Regions from separate parts of the Homo sapiens genome. Here region 2 is linked to region 1. Evidence: fine-mapped expression QTL. Tissue or cell type: blood mononuclear cells. Region 1 holds a variant in brackets; the other region holds the start of a gene. All regions are shown on one strand. Distances are between the middles of the regions.

Evidence for each region. PIP is the estimated chance that this variant, and not a neighbour inherited with it, causes the effect.
Region 2: it holds the start of NEMP2, and the variant in region 1 is fine-mapped to the expression of NEMP2 in blood mononuclear cells (TOPMed, PIP 0.91).

What each region holds. Positions count from the first base shown.
Region 1 is chr2:190,480,965-190,483,724 of GRCh38, reverse strand. All of the region lies in intron 4 of MFSD6 (major facilitator superfamily domain containing 6), which reads right to left. It also overlaps a transcript of NEMP2 not described here. Among named protein-coding and RNA genes, the nearest start is that of NEMP2, 52 kb to the left of the region's middle. The variant G/A (reference allele first, on the strand shown) is at 1,649.
Region 2 is chr2:190,533,760-190,536,389 of GRCh38, reverse strand. It overlaps NEMP2 (nuclear envelope integral membrane protein 2), which reads left to right and starts at 1,668. Exons shown (of 9, transcript NM_001142645.2): 1 at 1,668-1,831. The coding sequence starts at 1,735. NEMP2-DT (NEMP2 divergent transcript) reads right to left here and starts at 1,552. Exons shown (of 5, transcript NR_183903.1): 1 at 1,269-1,552. RefSeq lists a silencer at 1,355-2,004.

The sequences.
Region 1 (2,760 bases):
TAGCTGGGACTACAGGTGTGTGCCACCACGCCCAGCTAATTTTCGTACCCTTAGTAGAGACAGGGTTTCACCATGTTGGCCAGGATGGTCTTGATCTCTTGACCTCGTGATCTGCCTGCCTCGGCCTCTCAAAGTGCTGGGATTACGGGCGTGAGCCACTGCGCCCAACCCTGTTTTCATTAATATTATCACATCAGCTTACTCTACAAGGAATTGTGCTAAGTGTTTTACACAGATTATTGAATCTATTCCTCCAATAGGTACAGTACTATTTTTTCTTCATTTTCCAAAAAGGAAACCAAGGCACAGAGATATTAGATGCCTTGTCCAGAGTCACACAGAGAAGAGAGTTGTTGAATAGGATTTGAACCCAAGGTGTCCAAGTTCAGAGCTTAGGTGCTTAAATATTACACTATATGTTCTCATAACAATTGTTAGAAGTATTCTATAGTAAATGTAACTATCTACTTTGAGAGATTTTGTTGTTAATATCAAACATACCCCACAAGCTACCAGTTTAAAAGATGATAGTCGGCCGGGCGCGGTGGCTCACGCCTGTAATCCCAGCACTTTGGGAGGCCGAGGCGGGTGGATCACGAGGTCAGGAGATCGAGACCATCCTGGCTAACAAGGTGAAACCCCGTCTCTACTAAAAATACAAAAAAATTAGCCGGGCGCGGTGGCAGGCGCCTGTAGTCCCAGCTACTCGGGAGGCTGAGGCAGGAGAATGGCGTGAACCCGGGAAGCAGAGCTTGCAGTGAGCCGAGATTGCGCCACTGCAGTCCGCAGTCCGGCCTGGGCGACAGAGTGAGACTCCGTCTAAAAAAAAAAAAAAAAAAAAAAAAAAAAAAAAAAAGATGATAGTCTTAATAACTCTTCTCCACCCTTTCTGAAGAGCTGACATGTCATCTATATTGTTTTTTAAATGCCCCAAATACCTTATAACACTCAACACTGGTATCTGATTGTACAACATGCATTTCAAAATTGTTCAGTCTTGGCCCACAAGAATGCTCTACTGAAATAAATGGCATGTATGAGCAGGAAAAAAAGTCCTTTCTTCTTAAGGAGACAGCTGCTCTTTGTAAACTGTTGCTTGGCTTGGGGAAATCACATTATAATGGCTGGGAGGAGTGAGAACTGACACAGTACTAGGGAACTAGGATTGTTTTGTTTTTCTTCCTTCTGCCACTGACTTAAGCTTACTGAACAAAACATAACTATCCCTTTAGCATTGGCACACAGAATCAGCTGTGACAAACCTTTCCCATGAATAGACCAAAGCATACATTTCAATTAGTTCTGGGATTAAAAAAAAAAAAAAAGGAAAGCTTCCGAAAGGTCAACTTGGTGAAAATCAGTAAGAGACTATTCTTCCTAAGGAAAGGCCTCCATTGGGCAGGCAATAAAAGAAAAAGTCTATATTGGAAATCTTAGTGGTTTCACACATTAAATGTTTTCTTTTCTTGCTCACACAAAGTCCAATGAACAGGAGACAGGAGTAGTAGCAGCTCTGCTCCATAGTCATTCAGGGATCCAGGTTACAGAGAATCTGCCATCTGCAATGCCTGGTTACCCTAGGTATCAATATCCAGCTGACAGAGAAGGGAGTGACACACCTCTGCACCTGACCCATACAATTTCCCAC[G/A]TGCTATCCTTTCCTCCTATCATTTCTGCTTTTATTCCGCTGGCCAGAATTAACCACATGGTCATACCTAACTGCAAGGGAGGCTGGGAAATAGAATCTAGCTGCATGTCCACGAAGAAAAGGAAACAGAGATGGTGAGTAGCAAGCCAGTCTCTCTGTCAGAGTTGGGGCTACTAACAGCAATACACCTTCCACAAATGGCGGAGGATCCTACAAAGAGCAATGGACTTAGCAGCAGCAGCAGCATGGATCTTCTGTGTGCTGCACGAAAGAAAGTTTATATAAGACATGCAACAATTTGTGTTAAAAGCCAACATTCCCACACCTATTGATGTATAGGACTGCAAGAATCCCCTTCATGCATTCAACAGTATTTACTCAGCATCTATATTATGTGCCAGATAGCCTGCTAGGCTTTGAAAATATGACAATATGCAAAATAATGTCCCCAGCCACCAAGGAGCTTACAGTCTGGCAGGTGAAAGGGGGCAGGATTTATCTAAAGGGGACGCAGACTGAGCTCCTTGAGAACAGACATATCCAGCACCCAGCAGAGGGCTGACATGTAACAGCAGCTGAACAAAAGGACATTGAACTGAAACAGGGTAGGCAGTGGTCTACATGTTGGGATATGACGAAGAAAGCATTTATGGATAAAAGGTACCCTGGGTAAGGTTGGAGAAAACTTCCAAATCCCATATATAAGTAAAAGTGGACAGAGGAAATAAAATAGTAGATCTCTTCTATAAGCTCTAGCTTGCAAACTTAAAAAAATATATGAGTTGCTTAAAAAAAGTCTATAACTGATGTAACAATGTTCTAGGGGGCCCTCGTGAATTTTTACATGCTGGCATTATGCCTTTGGCATACCTTTAAGCAGGTTTTAGGAGACTACCACCCAAAACCCAGGGAGTTTAATGTTAAGACTTGGCAACATTATACTACACGCCCAGTGTTTTCCCACCTGAAGCCACACATGAGAACTGCTTTTCTATCAGCCAATAAAGATTTCACTTATCTTCCTCAAAGATAACTTTATTAATAGTGTGCACTGACTAGCCACATTTCCCTTACGCTTTGGTCATTAGGCTTCAGCTTAATTCATAGCCAGG
Region 2 (2,630 bases), 53 kb before region 1:
GTTTCCTGCTCCTGCTGCTCCCCAAAGGGCAGAAGGTTTGTGCTTCTATCTCTTCTCCAGAAGCAGGGGGTCTTTGCCAGGATCCTGTTGGTGGTAAAGCTTCCTGCCCTTCCCCCAGTGGATAAGGTTTTCATACAGAAGAAAAGTTTGGAGAGGTTAAGTGGAATTTCATGATTGTCCCCCAGTGACAGAACTATCACCTCCTAACATTCTTGTTATCTCCGGAAAAATATTTATTGCTTATAGAGAAAAATGTGGTGTTTCAATATAGCTTCTTTACAGATATTTACTAAGGATCTGTGATATAAATAGCACTTTAAATATTTAGTACATTGCTGCCTGCCCTTTTGTTTCTCCACCAGATATATCTGTAGAAAATACATTCATCATTCAACAACCCACCTGTTTATTTTAGCTACTTTCCATAGTGCCATCCAAAATTAAACCAAATCAAAATGAATGTGGTTAGGTACAAAAGCTGTCTTGCAAGAAGCAAGTGCACACCGCACCTGGGAATACAGGAAAGAATTGGATCAGGGCTCTGCTGTTTCTCTGAAGACAGGCTTCACTCAAGTAATGATGGTTTATTTTTAAAAACCATCCCTCTGAAGAGTCCCTTACAAGGAAATTTCTTAACTTTTTAAAAGCCATACATGGTGTACACATGGTGCCAAGTGCTTAAGGGCAGTTGGTTAAACCTTTCTTTGAGGGCAAGGAAAGCCTAGTCCATCCTACTCAGACTTTTAGGAAAAATGAGGCTTATCTATTTTTAACAGGATAATTTCTGTTACTTTGGGTTCTCTAAGATATCTCACCAAAAGACCAGAATTAGAGAAGACTGTCCTAGTTAAGTATGGAATATTGAGTCAAATTAATGGGTTCCAGGTCCTGTGGAGGGAATGTTCTTTAAAATATATGTATATCTCCTAATTATCAGTATTAAGATCATTCAGGTTATATGTTAATTTAAAAATATATCTATTACATTAAGAAACTTTTTTTTAACATAAGGTAATTTTAAGAGAACCTTGTCATGTTGGTGAAGGAACATTTTACGAGCCCCTCTGTACTCTGAAATGCCGTGTCCGAGATTAGACATACAAGTCAGTGTTACTTAAGCGGCCAAATTTCCAATTTGTTATTGCTTGTTACCAAATGAAAGTAAAAAGATAAACAGAAAGGTAAAATAAAGAAACTGGCTTTTATGTATTTTATTCACAAAAAGGGCGTTTGCCGAAGGACCTTCCCATTCACGGGCTGTCACTCACAGGTGCTCGGAGAATTCAGCCTCCAAATCCGCAGGTCACAGGTCAGCCAAGTTTTAAGAAACACTCCGGGTTAGCGACTCTTCCTCTCTGCAACTCCCACCCCTGCGCCGAGGGCAGCGGGACACGGCCGGGCGGTCCCCAGGGGAAGATGAGGCCCTGGACGCCCCGCGTGCGCTGGAGGCCCGGAGGCCAAGGCCGAGGCCGAGGCCGAGGCCGGGAGCATGCCAGCGGGGTCGCGCCACCGAAAGCTCCTCCGGCCTGGGCCCGCCGTGCCCCGAGGCCGCGGGCGGAGGCTGGAGCAACGAGCCCAACTCTCCCTCCGCCCCGGGGAGGCGGGGTCTCCGCCTTTCCCGCGTTCGGGCCTCACCGCCCCCTCCGCCTTCTCTGAGCCCCCGCGCCACTTCCGCTCCTCGCAGCGGAGCCGGTCCCCTAGGGCTCGGGTCGCACGGAGCTGACCCCTAACGAAATGGGGCCGCGCCAAGGGCGGTGGTGGCTGCTGCTCTGGCTGCCGCCCCTGGCCACACTGCCCGTGCGCGGGGAGGCGGCGGCGGCAGCGTTATCAGGTAACCCGGGACCGGCGGCGGCGGCGCGCGCGTGCGTGCTCGCTCCCCGGCTTCGCGGCTGCCCTGAGGGCGCGCTCTTTGGCCCGGGCGGCACCGCGAGGCCCACTGGGGCGGGCGCTCCCTTTTCTCGCTTTGGGGTCTCCCGGGCAGGCCCCGCCCGCCCTTCCTGTCTTACTGGGCTTCCGTAGTCTCTCGCCTGGCAGTTGGACATTTTGTAATTTTAGAATTAGAAGCAACCGCGCGATCCAGTCGCCCAATTCCCTCGTTTTACAGAAGCAACCGAAACTCAGAGAGGTTTTGATTTGCCCAGGGTCACACAGCTTGTCACTGGCACAGCTGACCCTAGTCTCCAGACTTTCAGCACACGGCCTTTTGTACAGTACATCAATGCGTGTTGAAATCCTTGTTATTTCACTATCTCGCATTCCTTTGGTCTCAAGACTAGAGAAGGTAACAGCTTCAGCTTCAGAATCGGAGCGAAAATTCTTCTGCCCCTGACTGTTGTGACCTTGAGCGAGTAAACATAACGGTCCCACGTGAGCGGCAGGTAATGAGGCCTCACAAGGTTCTTGTGGTGTTCGTGTGCACAATGCCTGGCACACAGGAAGCAAGAACTGGTAGCGGCTGCTAGCTGTAGGGGCTCGCCACGGAGTGGGCTTAAGATGCTGGCACACTGGGGAAGGATCTGGGAAGGACACCTGGGGAAGTCAGAAACCTAGAGTTCCAACTCCAGACCTGCCGCTAACTTACCATGAGCTTCACATTTCTGTTTCTTTTTTTTTTTCCCCTCATAAAATCT